Linked DNA regions of Homo sapiens: region 2 is linked to region 1. Evidence: fine-mapped expression QTL. Tissue or cell type: fibroblasts. Region 1 holds a variant in brackets; the other region holds the start of a gene. All regions are shown on one strand. Distances are from middle to middle.

Region 1 (8,100 bases):
AAGGATGGAGTTGTTGACCATCTGAGAAAATGTTTTCCTGTGCCCACATACCGTAGGGGAGGGCTGCCATTTCAACAGGGCTAACCCACAGCCATCAACAGTGGCTTCTATCAGCTTTTTGTAACTGTTCCTCTGACGGAAAGCTCCAGGGCAGCTGCATCATTTCCTTCCTCTTACATTTGTGCTCAAGGCTCACCCTGGTCAAGAAGCCTGGCTGCATTTCCCAGAGGTTCTTTTATCAGCCAGTAGAACCTATGACCTTGTACCCTCCGTGTTGCCCTTGCTGTCAGTCGGCTCTTGTTTATCCTTCCATCTTTTCTTTGTGAAATATCACTCAGAGATTTGTCCATAGGAGTGCTGAAAGAGCTTCCTCCATTTATGTCTTGACTGCTTCGTATTCCATAAAAAAATAGTTTGTTTAACCAGTCTCCTAGATAGAGGTTTCCTTTATTTGTAATCTTTTGCTTTCACAATGTTGCATTGAATGCTTCTGTATTTTCATCACGATGCGCACCTGTCAGTATAGGATAAACTCCTAGAGGTGGAACTACTGGGTCAAAGGGGATGTGCATGGAAAATTTTGCTAGCTGTTGTCCTCAAGCCTCTCCACACCAGCACTGTGAGCACATTTCCCCAAAACGTTGCCAACATCAGGAGTTCTACTTTTTGATATTTGCCAATCTGGTAGGTGAAAAATGTTTTCTCACTGTGGTTTTAATTAGTCTTTCTTTGATTAAAGAGACTGTGTATCTTTTCATATTTTAGAACTCTTTTTATTTCCTTTTCTGTTCACTGCCTGTTGGTGGCCTCTAACCATTTTTCTGATGGTCATTGGTCTTTTTCCTAATCATTTGAGGGAGCTCTTTATGTACTAGGGAAATTAGCCCTTTGTGATATGAATTGCAAATATTTGTTCTCAGTTTGTCATTTGTCTTTTGACTTTGCCCATAGTGGTATTTGCCATGCATAATTTTTTTTTTTTTTTTTTTTGAGACAGAGTCTCGCTCTGTCACCCAGGCTAGAGTGCAGTGGCGTGATCTCGGCTCACTGCAAGCTCCGCCTCCTGGGTTCACACCATTCTCCTGCCTCAGCCTCCTGAGTAGCTGGGACTACGGGTGCCTGCCACCACGACCGGCTAATTTTTTTTGTATTTTTAGTAGAGACGGGGTTTCACCATGTTAGCCAGGATGGCCTCGATCTCCTGACCTCGTGATCCTCCCGCCTCAGCCTCCCAGAGTGCTGGGATTACAGGCGTGAGCCACGGCGCCCGGCCGCATAATTTTTTTTAATGTTTGCATAATTAAATTTTTCAATTGTTTCTTTTGTGGCTTCTGGGATTTCTGGTTTCCTTAGAAAGGTCTTCTTCACTGCAAGATTATTTTTAAAAGCCTAGAATTTCTTCTAGCATATGAATGATTTCATTTTTATTTTGAAATGTTTCATCCTTCCAGAATTTATCCTGGTGTGAGGTGTGGCTCCAACATAATTTTTTTCAAGACGGCTACACTTTGTCCAACACTATTAAACAATCCATCTTTACCCCATTATTCAAATGCCACCTTTTTCACCAACTAAATTTCCTGGATGTATTTAGGCATATTTCCAGTCTTTTGTGTTCTGTTGATGGTCCTGAACATATACCATCAGCAGATTGCAGCTTTGTACTATGTTTTGCTGTGGGCAGTGGGGCGATGCTCATACCCCAGCACTGCTTGTTTTCATACTTTTCTTGGCTATTATAGCTGGTTCATTTTTCCAAATGAACTTTAGAATGCTTGTTTAATTCCACATATAAAAATCTTATTATTTTTATTGTGTATCTCTTAAGTTTATAGGTAATTTAGGGAAAATTGACATGTTTGTGATGCCAAGTTTTCCAGTGCAAGTTCATTTATTCAAGTCTTTGAGCCCGAAAGAGCATTATAAAGTTTTCTTATCTCCTTTTCTTGATTGTGAACTCCCTGGGAGCAAGAATGGGGTCAAGTTTTGAGTATGGCTTATTAGTAATGATCTATATAATTACTGACAAAAGAAACATAATTTTCATTAAATATTTGTAGAACCTACTTTTTCCTAACATCATTGCTTGCCATTTTATGAGTTGTTTTCTGCACATCAAAGAAAGGCAAGATGTAGTACAAATGCTGATGTCAAATGTCAGCATTTTAATCCTTAAAGTCATCTCTTGATTGGTGTGTTCTTTCTTTATTTATTTTTAATAAAAAATTGTATTTGCTTAGAAGCATTCAGAATGTCAACAAAATGGCTACAACTTTTTCTTTTTTTTTTTTTTTTTTGCAATTACAGAGTGGTATTCACTTAACAACAGTCATTTTATATAAGCTGCATCAGAGACAACTGAAGATGAAAAAACTACCATCCCCATATATAACTAATTTGTGCCATGCACTAACAAGAACCTGCTTTTAATTTCCATGCCAGTTTACAATCCCCATACTGTACTAGGCAAGGTTGGTGGCTATTGAAAATACCACCAGGACAGGGATATCTAAAGACACATTTGGTAGTGTGTTAACTATACAAAAAAAAAAAGACATTGTACAGTTTAAAAACAAATCTTACACAGCCTTACATTTCAGTTTTTTTCTTTAAAAGGAGTGAGTTATGTACAGGTTAAATGCTTTATAGACGAGAAAAAAAACTACACTAGAACCAACTTATTCATCATCATCTTCATCTTCCTCCTCCTCATTCTTATCCTCTTCATCTTCCTCATCTTCCTCCTCTTCCTTCTTTTTCTTGCTTTTTTCAGCCTTGACAACTCCCTTTTTTTGCTGCAGCAGGCTTTCCTTTAGCCCGATATGCAGCAATATCCTTTTCTTACTTTTCCTTCAGCTTCGCAGCCTTCTTTTTATAAGGCTGCCTGTCATCTGCAGCAATGTTATTCCACATCTCTCCCAGTTTCTTTGCAACATCATTAGTGGACAGGCCAGATGTTCTCCTTTGATATTTGGGCGATACTCAGAACAGAACAGAACAGGACAGAACAGAACAGGAAGAAGGCCGAAGGAGGCCTCTTGGGTGCACTGGGATCCTTTAACTTTTTTTTTTTTCTTTTGAGATGGAGTTTCCCTTTTGTTGCCCAGGCTGGAGTGCAATGGCGCAATCTCAGCTCACTGCAACCTCTGCCTCCCAGGTTCAAGCGATTCTTTTGCCTCAGCCTCCCGAGTAGCTGGGATTACAGACGCCCGCCACCATGCCTGGCAATTTTTTTTTTTTTTTCAGTAGAGACGGGCTTTCACTGTCTTGGCCAGGCTGGCCTCGAACTCCTGACCTTAGGTGATCTACCCGCCTCAGCCTCCCAAAGTGCTGAGATTACAGGCGTGAGCCACCACACCCAGCCTGAACGTCTTTTTTGTCTCCCCTTTAGGAAAGATACAGGTTTTCGTTTCTCTTTCGTATGGGCCCTGTCTGCCTTTGCCATATCTTCGAATTTTCCTTTCTGTTTAGTAGGCATGGTCTTCCACCTCTCTGAGCACTTCTTAGAAAACTCTGAGGAGTTGACTGAAGCATCTGGATGTTTGTTCTTATGTGCCTCCCTACAAGTTTGCACAAAAAATGCATATGATGGCATTTTCTCTCTTGGCTTCTTAGGGTCTCCTTTGCCCATGTTTAGTTATTTTTCCTCAGCAAGGCACAGAATTGCCCAGTGCCCATCTGGCTCTCACTTGCCCCAGTGCTATCTCTATGGAGCTCATTGTACTGCAATGGCTGTGATATCGGGAGCCAGGTGCAGCCTCCTCACTCTCTCCGCTCTATAACATTGCTCTCCAGCCAGCGCAGCTCCTAGTTGATTAGCGTGTTCTTAAAAGAGCATTCTGTGTAGGTAATCCAGGGGCTTCACATTTAGGTATTTGAGTTTTCCTCCACTAG[G/C]AATAGTGGCAAATATAATGTGATTTTCCAGCTCTAATCTTCCCTCCCCATAACGCTGGCACAGATTTTGAGGTAGCCTTGGCCTGGGAAGTAGCCAAAAGGCACTGTGTTGGACAAAGAGCAGACCATTGGCATCTATGTGCATGTCCTCAGGAGAGAGGTGACTAGGCAGATGGGGACAAGACACGGGTGCTCTGTGTTCTGAGCGTCAGCGTACATCCTGTTTGGTTAGCACAGAGTGAGTCTGGGAACTTTGCACTTAGCACCTTGGCAGCCCAGGTCTGGGAATAGTGGTGCCTTCTCCTAAAGTTAGGTCACTAATCTTTGACTGGCTGTTTGCAGGACCAGTTCTCTAACGGATCCAGGGTTCCAGTGGAACCCTGGAGACTGGAACTCTGGAGCTTCTTAATAAACTGCCTCCCTACTTAAAGCATGGTGTCAAAACCAGGTTGAAATGCAACGTGAGGAGAGAGGACTGTGCTTTGGTGTGCCTAGGGAGGATGTGACCAGTTCCGCGTGCTGTTTGTGAACAGGAAGATAGTGGGATCAGATGCATTTAACATGTGGATACAGTTCTGAGGGGTTTTAACTGGTTTTCTTTGAACTTTAGAAAAGCACATTTATTTTTCCTTGGAGCAAAAAAGTAGTTTCTTTTTAAGTGGTTTTATTGTAACTCATGGGGCTGTTCTCCTAACATTCATATTTTATAGTTTGCACGATATGCACAAAGGTCACAGATGTACCAGCCTGGCCCAGTGGCCTCCGTCCTGTATTTAGAAACCAGTTCGGGAACGGAAGAGGATTGCTCTTTTGTTTCCTCAGGCCACTTTTGGTCATTTCAGGCAGAAACAGTCTCTGCATTGGAATTTTCCTGTGCAGATCCTGCAATTCAGGAATAGAGCATTTAGCAACAACAGTGAAAATGTAATGTGTGACAGCTGTGGAGAAGAATTTGCCTCCAGTGAGGGGAAAATGCTGTGTTCAAAGTGGATTTCTGATGAGCCTATTAATGGGTGTTTGGGAAGCTGAATATGTTGCTGCCATTTTGAGATGAAAGGCCCAAGGTGTTTGTTCCTGAAGCTAATGAGGAAGCCCTTTCCCAGCCTCAGCCTTACCTCCCCAGTAGGACTGGTGAGATGTGCACACAGGGTCTACTCCACATCTGGCCCTCCTGAAAAGAAGGGCTTCCAGTGGGGGCTGTGTCCTAGTGGAGAAGGGTGAAGCCCAGTGGGATGGGCTCACGAAGGACCTGCTGTTGACCTGCTGGCTTCAGGTCCACCAGGCTAGGGGTAGATAGGCCAGAAAAGAAACCAGAGGTGTCTGTGGTAGGAGCAGCAAGGGCCCTGGCTTCCAGGCCTGTGGAGCAGGGAGGCTCTGGCAGTTCAGGATCTGGAAAAGAACTGACAAAATGTTCTCCTAAACTCTGGCCCTTGCCGGCTTCCTTACCTTTCCTGTGTGCACACACATGCATGCACATGCACATGTGCACACACAGGAAGGCCTGGAACTCAGTTTGCAGACTCGTGGAGCTGCCACAAAGCTTCACTCCCAGTGTTTCCCCCACCACTGATGCTTGTCCTCCTGGGTTTATTCTCACCCATGAAAGTAGGGTAAAAATGTATCCCCAAATCAAACACCTGTCACCTTTCTAGAAGCACTTCCATCCTCTCTTGCTCTCACTGTCATCGCTCTCCTGGATCTTTGGGGAGATATTCAGTATGATTTTGTTAACATTCTGGCCTTATCTTAGAGATAATTAAATGTGAATATTCAAATTAATTAGCCCCCAGATGTATCTTCTGCAGAAAAAAACTCCTCTAACAAGAAGTCAGTTACAGTTGTGAGAAACATGCAAAACGAAAGAAATGTTTTTTTTCAAAGACCTGTGAAGACCACTGTAGAGAAGCTCCAACAAATTCAGTTTTCAATTTGAAGAAACATTATTTAATATAGAACATTTTGACAGTTGATCAGACAGGAGAAAATAGGCACAAAGCTGTTATTTTAACTTCTGGTTGGGGGAGTTGATGAGTCTTGAGTGTGATAAAGTAAGGAACGCTTTGGACTGAATCAGAGACCTGTCCTCTAATCCTAGCTTTTTTTTTTTCTTTTTTTTTCCTCATTTTTAAAACGGGGAAGACACCATTGCTCAGAATTGTGAAGATTAAGCTAGAAGGCCGGGCAGGATGGCTCACTTCTATAATTCCAGCACTGTGGGAGGCTGAGGTGGGAGGATTGCTTGAGCCCGGGAGATCAAGACCAGCCCTGGCGACATAGCAAGACCCTGTCTCTACAAAAAAAAATTAACTGGGCATGGTGGCATGTGCCTGTGGTCCCAGCTACTCAGGCGGCTGAGATGGGAGGATTGCTTGAGCATGGGAGGTTAAAGCTGCAGTGAGCCGTAGTTGTACCACTGCACTCCAGCCTGGGTGACAGAGTAAGACCTTGTCTCTAAAAATAAGTAAATAAATAAACTAGAGACATGACTCACCCAGCTCCTGATGGAGAGATTTGGTGCTCAGAAATATCTCTCCTCTCTGAGATCTTGGTACTCCCCATGATGCACTAAGTGAAATTGGTACTTCTCAGCCTCATGATTGTCTCCCCATAGTATCATCCTATTCTATCTCTCTGACCCCATTGCCCACCGCTCCTGTCTGTGACAGTAGCTGCCTGTGTATTCATCATGCATCCTACCTTCAGATTACGAATGCCACCAGGGCGGTCACTGTGTCCGGCTCTAATCTCTGTATGCCTCACAGCACTCGTATTTGTTGAATTTTATTAAATCAATATATAAGAGCCAAAATAAAATATAGGTAGAGGCAGGTTCGGACCTGATAACATCTTTGGTTTGGCCCCAGGTGCCAGCAGCACACTCCTAGTTGGGCATCCTCAGTCCATGTTGTCACTCTGAAAACAAATCTGTTTGTCAGAGTAAAGGTCACCTTTTTTTCTCAGTGGACAAATATTTTTTTCTGAAATGAAAAATTTGCTTTTCTTCCCTTGAGTGTGTGCACTCAAGTAAGCAGAGTGGAGGGCCTGTGAAGATGGGCATTCTCTCTGGAAACTGAGGAAACATCCCGAGCCTATGTCTCCTAACAGTCTTGGCACCTAACTAGAATCTGACCGGAGTTTCAGCACGCAGCCAGCAGAGGACATCACCAGCCATTTGAGTGTGCAGTTGTCTGGAGCAGCCACGCAGCAGGTCTCTGTAGCCCTGATGGAGAGAGTTTTCTTCTTGGGAGGGCTTCCCAGGATGATGTAACACCTCTGCGTTTTGCCTCAGTGGCTGAAGAGTCCCTTTGGACTTGGGTTTTGCAGAAAGAGAGGGGAGTCTGAGGGCAGAGTGTAAAGTGACACAGCCGGTGTGTAGAGCTGAGCAGCCTGTGTTAGGAACAGTCAGAGCCTGTGGACTTGTGAGGCTTCCACTCACGTGCTATGTTAGCAGTTCTTTTCCTCAAGCTCTACTGAAAGACCTGTGGACCTGACATTTTATGGTCACAAGCCCTGGAGAAGATAGCCATTCATTTTGCTGGATGACCTTTTAAATAAACCTCTAGAGTAAGTTCCAGGCAAATACTGGAGGTGGCTGTGTTTGCCCAACAGAATCCAGCAAAAACACTTCTCTGTGCTTGAAATTCCTTCTTGTACCTGATGCTTTGGAATTTAGGCAGGTGATAAATTAAAGATGAATTTCTTCTTTTTTTTTAACGTTACAATATAGTTAGCTATTATCTTGATATGCTTTCTAATATATAATGGAGTTACATATGTACATTTAACTTATGCAAATTCAACTCTACAGATTGAGAGAGAGACCCCCACACACACACAGACACACACATACACACACCACCTTATTTGTGCTGACCCTTCTGCCAGCTTCTCCATTCAAAGGAGCACAGGCCCCCCCTGTGTGTGATCTGGGAGCCTCACGTCACCTCTGCTGGTACCAGGGCCTGTGTGTCTCTCCTGCGAGAGAGAGCACCTTACTGTATCTTCACGTTTAAAGATGTGTTTTTGTTTTCCATTTCCTTTGTTTCACAACATGGCCTTAACCTCAAGCCACCAGTGCCATCTGTGCTTATCCACAGCCCCAGCCATCTTCGTGGCACTGAGGGAGAACTGCCTGGCTCCCTTTGCCCAGAGACAGTGTGTTACTAAGGGATGCTCAGGGCATAACTTTATTATAGTTAATAGTTT
Region 2 (8,100 bases), 240 kb before region 1:
CAAATGCAGGCGTTTCTGCCACTAAGTGACATCAGTAACACCTCTTTGTTGGATGCTAACTCAGCAGTAATGTAACCTCACATTGAGGGGGATGCCAAGAAAATCAAAAGGAATTAGCTGGGCACAGTGGCTTACACCTGTTATCCCAGCACTTTGGAGGCCAAGGAGGGTAGATCACCTGAGGTCAGGAGTTTGAGACCAGCTTGGCCAACATGGTAAAACCCCGTCTCTACTAAAAATATAAAAAATAGATGGGTGTGGTGGTGGGTGCCTGTAATCCCAGCTACTCCAGAGGCTGAGGCAGGAGAATTGCTTGAACCTGGGAGGCAGAGGTTGCAGTGAGCCGAGATCACACCTTTGCACTCCAGCCTGGGCGACAGAGTGAAACTGCATCTCAAAAAAAAAAGAAAAGAAAAACAAAAGGAATTATAAGAAAAGATCAGCCCTGTGCCCAAGAACAAAAGGCCAGGAGGAAGCTGGCCATTTTCCAGGCCTCTCTGAGAGAGGAGCAGCACACAGGCCCAAGGTTTCAAGTTAAACTCATTGAGGTTGGGTCTTGGCTCTGCCACCTGCTAGCTGGGTGACCCTGGGAAAGTCATTTGACCTCTCTGAACAGAAAATTTCCTCTCTCCAGAGAAGACTAAAGGGGAACTCGGGGGCTGAGGACAAGCACAGCCTTGAATGCTAAGGTCAGTGCACAGGACAGAGTCCTGTGTGGGAGTCAGGAGTGGCAATTGCCACTTGGTTGCTGCCTTGCCTCAGGTCCATCTCTGACCATCCCTGACCACTACCACTGAGGGGAGGGATGGGTAGCCTCTGCTCCCCTACCATGGCTATCCAGCCACCAACTCCTCAGGACCACCACAGAGGTGCCACCAGCTGGAAGGCCCAAGACCAAGTCCAGCCCAGTCACCTTGGCAGTGGATAGTTCCCCAAATCTTCTGGAGTCCTGTCTGGGCACTCAGACCTGGGCTCGGTATTGGAGCTGGACACACTGCATCCTGCTGAGTGACTTCGGGCAAGTTCACCTCTCTGTGCCTCCATTTCCTCATCTGTAAAAAAAAGGAACTTAAGGCCGGGTGCAGTGGCTCACACCTGTAATCCTACAGCATTTGGGGAAGCTGAGGGGGTGGATCACCTGAGGTCAGGAGTTCGAGACTGGCCTGGCCAACACAGTGAAACCCCCATCTCTAATGAAAATACAAAATTTAGCTGGGTGTGGTGGCAGATGCCTGTAATCCCAGCTACTGGGGTGGCTAAGGCAGGAGAATTGTTTGAACCCAGGAGGCGGAAGTTGCAGTGAGCCAAGACCACACCACTGCACTCCAGACTGGCCGACAGAGCAAGACTCCAGCTCAAAAAAAAAAAATGGGCTGTGGTGACAATTATAGAAGATGTATGATGTCTGGTCCCTGGCATGCAGCAGGTGCTCAACAAATGAACATGGCAAAGATTTCAGGCTCTAGAAGCAGATTGGCTGCCTGCATTCAGTTCTGGCTCCACCCACTTACTAACCCTCTGTCATTGGACAAGTCGCTGCACCTCTCTGAGCCTCAGTTTCTTCATCTTTAAAATGGGGGTCACAAGCCAGGCACAGTGCCTCATGCCTGTTATCCCTGCACTTTGGGAGGCTGAGGTGGGCAGATCACCTGAGGTCAAGAGTTCAAGACTAGCCTGGCCAACACGGTGAAACCCCATCTCTACTAAAAATACAAAAATTAGCCGAGTGTGGTGATGAGCGCTTGTAGTCCCAGCTACTCGGGAGGCTGAAGCAGAAGAATCGCTTGAACCCAGGAGGCGGAGGTTGCAGTGAGCCGAGATTGAGCCATTGCACTCCAGTCTGGGCAAGAAGAGTGAGACTCCATCTCAAAAAAAAAAAAAAAGTTGGGGTGGGGGGGGCGGTCACGACAATACCAAACAGAAAACACTCTCGTGAAGATTAAGGGAGAGAATAGCTGCAGAGCACTGAAAATACTGCTTGATGCTTGATAAGGAGCAAGCACTGGGAAAATATGACCTGTTACTACTCTGGTGAGCAGTTCACACAGTGAAGTCTTACACCATCTCAGTGGCTCTTTCTCCTCTCTCACTGCCTACGAGACAAAGTGGTCACCACTGCCTCCTCTTCACAGTTGAGGAAACTGAGGCCAAGAGAGTGGAGGTCAGTGAACTACCCAAGGCGTTATCTTTGTCAAATATCTCGAACTTAGAGAAAGTTCAGGTTTCCTGATGACCAGCCCTTTGCTTTTCCCAGGCGCCCCAGCCTAGGGACCCCTCCACCCAAGAACAATAAGCCTGGGCTTGGAGGGAGGGTAGGTGCCACCTCCCTGCCAGGTGCATGTCCGCACTGGGCCTTCCGTGAGTACAAGTCCCCCAGGTACCAGCAGGAGGCAGCATCGCCCGCGAGGTCTGCACGAGCGCTGCTCCCAGCGAGAAATTTGACATCCCTGTCCCTGTTTGCACAAGGCTTGATCTCCGCCTTTGAAACCTGCAGCCCCCAGGAGAATGAAAACCGGAGGTGTTTCCCAATCCGCTGGCCCGGGCGGCGTCGAGGGAGAGAAGCCAGGGCCCCTCTCAATCGCTGCCCCCTACTCCAGGGAGCACAGGCACTCCCGCGGGTCAGCGCTGGACACCAAGGTCCCAACAGGTTTACAGGCTGCCTGTGGCCTGTGGCTGCCAACGAGCTGGTGGCAGGACTGGGTCCAAGTGCCGTGCTGTTTCCATACTGGCTGCGCACAAGCCTACGTTTCTCCCTGAGGGTCGCCATCTCCCACCCAGGGCTCTGCCCTCCACCCTCCCTACCCTTCTGGCCTCGCTGTCCCTGGGGCAAGAACCCCGGTGAGCGAGGTCTGGAACCCATAGGCATCAGTTGCCTTTGCCCCAGGCGCCCAGAGCCGGCCAGCTGCGGTCCAGAGGCGCAGGTCCGCCAGCCGCCTCGCAGGTTGCCCTCAGCCCCTCCCAGGACTCCCGGGGCCCCCGGAGCATCCAACAGATACCCAGGGGCAGGGCCTGGGGCGCCGCGGACGGCACTGGAGGCAGCCGACCCTGGACAGACGACAGGGGAGAGAGCCAAGCGGACCCTGGCAGGAAGGGGGCTGGAGGCGGACGGTGGTCTCGGAGGCCACGGGGTCCGCTCGGGCTCTGCTCCCTCACGGTGGGCACGAGGGTCCGGCGCCCGCATCCCCGCGCCGCTCCCTCCCCACTTGTGCCCCGGGCGCCCCTCGCCCGCGATCACAGCCCATCTCAGCCCGGGCCTCCGCAGTGCCCGGCCCACGCCTCCTGCCCCTTCCCCGGACCCTGCCCGGGAGGTGTGGGGACCCGCAGGGCACCCAAAGCGGTAAGGGAGGAACCCGGCCCGCACACAGCCCCAGAAGCCCAGCGACCCCTAAGCCACGTACCGTCCCCAGGCAGCTCCTCGACGGCTAGAGCTCTCGGGGGCCGCGAGCTGTCCCGGTCCAAGGCAGCAGTCTGATTTCGGGGAAATTAAAAGGGCAGAAAGGAAGCGGCAGCAGAAAAACCCCCGCGCTCCCGCCAGACCAGCCCCTTAAAGGAACACGCGCACCTTTCCCTCCCAAGGGCTGGGCTCGAAGGGAGGAGCTGCTGCAGGCTTGAGCGGTCTCCAGACTCGCTGGGAACCACCGCAAAGAGGGTGTGCAAGAGTTGAGGCCCTCACGTCTTGGGAAAGGAGAGTAGGGGTGGAATAGGAGAGTTTGGGGAGGGGGGATCCCCTTAGAAAGCCTGGTATACCAAAAACAGTGGGAGTAAGCAGGGGAAGCCCCTGTCCAGCATTCTGCTAGGGGCTAAGGCTGCTCCCCACCTTTGATTGTGGAAGGGGTGAGACTTCTGTATTACTTTCTTTTCCAAATAGAAAGCAAGGGGGTGAGGCCAGGTGCAGTGAGTGGCTCATGCTTGTAACCCCAGCACTTTGGGAGGTGGAGGCCGGTGGATCACCTGAGGTCAGGAGTTCAAGACCAGCCTGGGCAACATGGTGAAACCCTGTCCCTACTAAAAATACAAAATTAGCTGGGCGTGGTGGAGCATGCCTGTAATCCCAGCTACTTGGGAGGCTGAGGCAGGAGAATTGCTTGAACCCAGGAGGCGGAGGTTGCAGTGAGCTGAGATCATGCCATTGTGCTCCAGCCTGGGCAACAAGAGCAAAACTCCGTCTCAAAAAAAAAAAAAAAAAAAAAGCAAGGGGTTGCTGATGTCCTCATGCCCCTGAGTTTGGCCATCATGAAACACTGGCCAGATTCCCAACTCACTGTCAGGCACATAGCAGGTGCTATCCCCAGCACATGGGGCTTGAATGAGTGGCCCTGGCTGGGAGGGGAGACACAGGGTGGGATACCTCTGCAGCCTGCAGGGGCAATCAGGCTTCTGAGTGGTCCTCCAACAGGGGTGGGCCTCCCTTCGGAATCCTGCTAATCAGCACAGCCATCCAGGCAGCCGCTCAGGATGCCTCTGTTTGGACAGGGTGTTTTCTTTCCTGTCCAGACCAATGGGGGCCCTGGCCTGGACAGCCCGATGTTTCCTCAGCAGAAAAGACTAAGGAGGTCCTTCAGCTTTGGCTGGGGGAAGGGTCGAAGGGTCACAGGGTCACAGAGCTCAGAGCCTCTTCCTAAACACAGCTCAAGTTGGCCCATGAGTGTGTGTGTGTGTGTGCATGTGTGTGTGTTACACACAGCCAGGGGCACATTGGAGCACAAAGAACTGTGATCAACAGGTAAACTACACCTAAAAGGAACGCCAGGCTTGATGGGCAAAGGGGAGCCAAGGTAGGTCCCTCTGCAGGTTCCCGACAGGGGAGAGGATGGACAGTAGGGAGAGCACATTTTGCTACAGTTAAGTCGAGTTGAACATGCCAGCCAGGGGTAGGGGTAGCCAGCAGGTGGAATCTGAACGCTCACCCTCTGCCTTGCAGTGGGGCAGAAAAAAGTCAATGTGTAGGGGTGATGGTAAAAGCTGGGCAAATGGAAGACACTGCTGAGGGAGAGAAGCCAAGGAAGGAAGGAGGGGGTCAGGAGTGAGGGGACTCCACTCCAGGGTCCCAGGAGGGGGACTTTTAGAAGGCTGTGGCCAACCCATCCCAGAGCAGAGATGCTTCTCCCACTGTCTGCTTATCCCCAGGGTATGCTGGAACAGGGGTTCAGGGCAGGAAACTCCCCCGGGAGGGAGACCTGAGGCTTGGAAGCACGCAGAAAGGCTTGGCTCTAAACCCAATCCACACCGCTCCGCAGAAGAGAGCTCTGAAACGGGAGGCAGTAGGCCAAGGGACACCCAGGGGAAGGGAGTCCCCCATCCTCAGTTCCTACGAAGACCACGGCCTGGGCCTTTTATTCAGACCCTGCTAGGCCCAGGAGCCCAGCAACCGCAGGTCTCAGAAAGGAACCACTTCCAGACACATTTCCCTGATGTGGTTCCAGCAAAGCCACGCCCTCCCTTTGGCAGCCCTGTGGCCCCACCTCCTGCTGCTCAGAGGCGGCCCCACCTCCTGCTGCTCAGAGGCGGCCCCACCTCCTGCTGCTCAGATGCACCCCCTGCCTGCAGAACACAGCCGGCTCCCAAAGTTTGGAAAAATTCACCTTGACAAAGAGGGTGGTTTTTCCTACACCCCTTCCCAAGCTAGCCAAGCCTCTGCCTGCAAGTCACCCTTCCAGATCACCAAGACACTGGCCCGCAAGGCCCACCCCCACTTCTTGATGACCCCCACACAGGGGAGGGCAGAGAGGGTATCCCTGGAGCACACACGCCAGTGGCCTACCAGGAACCAGTGTGTTCAGGCAGGAGGCCTCATGCCCACTTGGCAGAGCCCCGGCCCCCTCCTCCAGTCCCACGCTGCACCCACCCCAGGAACTCCCGCAGTTCGGAAGGCATCCAGGTTCACTGAGTTTCTTATAGTTTCTCCAGCCCACCACTCCAGTTGCAGAGAGAATGGAAACTGCTGAAGGGGAAAACCAGCTGCCCCAGCCAGTCTTCCTGGCAGGAAGGGAGCAAAAGCATTCAGGAGACAGTGTCTGCCAGCACTCGCTGGGCCCCTGACCAGGCAGCAGTTGTAGGGCTCAGGGCCAGACGGCATGGAGGTAGAAAGCAGAGGGAAGAGGGGAAGTCAGGTTTTGAGGACCTGGAAGTCCTGACTTCCTTCAGGCCGCCCTGGACCAAAGTCTCCAGCCTCCTGCTATGAAGCTATGTGTAGTCAGGCAGGTGACATAAAGAAAGATGGGGCTGGGCACGGTGGCTCACGCCTGTAATCCCAGCACTTTGGGAGGCCGAGGCAGGTGGATCACAAGGTCAAGAGATTGAGACAATCCTGGCCAACACGGTGAAACCCTGTCTCTACTAAAAATATAAAACTTAGCTGGGCATGGTGGTGTGCACCTATAGTCCCAGCTACTTGGGAGGCTGAGGTAGGAGAAATGCTTGAACCCAGGAGGCAGAGATTGCAATGAGCCGAGATCACACCACTGCACTCCAGCCTGGCGACAGAGCAAGACTCCATCTCAAAAAAAAAAAAAAAAAAGCAAGCAAGCAAGCTGGGGCTCAGGGAGGACCACAGGTGGGGGATGGGGAAACCAGCGCAATTTAAATCCCATTCCCATGAAACAATAACGAACCACACCAAGAGTTCCCGTGAAGAAGATAAATATATTTTGGAAGCTGCCTGTGTCCTCTGGGGTGAAAAGCCAGCATAGAGGGCCCCAAACGCCCACCCTGCCAACCCATGCCCTCCTCTGACCTCGCTCCCTTTCTCCCCATAGACCCGCCCCACCCCCTTCTGTGTCGCTGGGCTTCAGGACAAGGGGCAAGAGAGGCAACCAGGGAGACAAGGGGAAGTGTCTTGGGGACAGGGGGCCACAGCAGTTGTGGCCACATGGTACCCCAGGGCCGACGCAGGGCCGACGGGCAAGAGGCTGTTATCTCCAGCCTGGCGCTTCCGGGCCTTTCTTGAGGCCACCATGGGAATGTGATGTGTGAGAGAGGGGCTAGGAGAGACAGAGACACACGCACCTGGGATCGGCGGTCCGGACAGGGGCAGGGAAACCACACGCCCTACTTTGCCCTTTCCTGTCCATCCCAGACCTACTCAGATCCCTCAGTGCCTAAGAAAACAGGACAGTGAGGACTGGGGGTTAGGGGACGGGGCTTAGGGGCTGGGGCAGGGCCCGTGAGAGGTGGAGGGTGGGAAAGAGGGAGGGAGGGGTGACTGTGTGGTGGTGCTGCCTCTGAACACCCTCCCCTTCCCCAGTCCCCAGCCCTATGGTGATTTAAAGGGGCTGAGAAGCCAAGAGGCAGCGGGCCCATGGAAAGCAGGAAGACCTGGGGGTGGCAGGTGGCCACTAACAGCCCAGCAGCTCCAGGCGCAGGGCGATGCGGTTGTGCCAGGCTACAGGCAGGATGCGCACATAGCGAGCCAGGATGGGCGTCTCAAACAAGTTCTTCTTGTGGGAGTGGTTGTCCCAGTTGCCAGGGAAGATCTAGAGGCAGAGCGGGTGTCAGGAGGACCCCGAGCCAGCCCCCCTCCCCTCAGAGCCCCAGGCCAGACTCCCAGGGAAGTAATGAAGGAATGGCAAAGGGTGGGCAGCTGGACAGACACCCACCTTACTGCTGCCAGTCCTGGGGTCCTGGTACTCAGTCCAGTTCGCACTGTCATTACTGTAGGCAACCTTGTAGGATGCCACAAACTGGACAGAGCCAAAGTTACGGGCCCCCTGGGTGATGATGCCTGTCACCTCCTTCGAGGAGCCCAGGTCCACCTACAGAAGAAACCAACCACATTTTCTCTGCTTGGACCATCTCCAGTAAGGTGAAAAGAGGCAGACACACTGAGGCATGAATTCTAGTTTTGAAAAAAACTACTTGGGTGAGCCTCAGTTTCTTTGGCTATAAAATGGGCATAAGGCCGGACATGGTGTCTCATGCCTATAATCCCAACACTTTGGGAGAGACTTGAGGCAGGTGGATCACCTGAGGTCAGGAGTTCGAGACCAGCCTGACCAACATGGTGAAACCCCGTCTCTACTAAAAATACAAAAAATTAGCTGGGCATGATGGTGGCTGCCTGTAATCCCAGCTACTAGGGAGGCTGAGTCAGAAGAACCGCTT

The links. PIP is the estimated chance that this variant, and not a neighbour inherited with it, causes the effect.
Region 2: HAPLN3 starts here. The variant in region 1 is fine-mapped to the expression of HAPLN3 in fibroblasts (GTEx, PIP above 0.99).

Annotation. Positions count from the first base shown.
Region 1 is chr15:89,132,865-89,140,964 of GRCh38, forward strand. All of the region lies in intron 3 of ABHD2 (abhydrolase domain containing 2, acylglycerol lipase), which reads left to right. It also overlaps the pseudogene HMGB1P8. Among named protein-coding and RNA genes, the nearest start is that of ABHD2, 48 kb to the left of the region's middle. RefSeq lists enhancers at 6,696-7,197, 7,198-7,697. The variant G/C (reference allele first, on the strand shown) is at 3,895.
Region 2 is chr15:88,892,061-88,900,160 of GRCh38, forward strand. It overlaps HAPLN3 (hyaluronan and proteoglycan link protein 3), which reads right to left and starts at 3,484. Exons shown (of 5, transcript NM_178232.4): 1 at 3,399-3,484. MFGE8 (milk fat globule EGF and factor V/VIII domain containing) reads right to left here. Exons shown (of 8, transcript NM_005928.4): 7 at 7,596-7,751; 8 at 6,623-7,472. The coding sequence ends at 7,335. RefSeq lists enhancers at 2,710-3,321, 5,318-5,612, 5,549-5,598.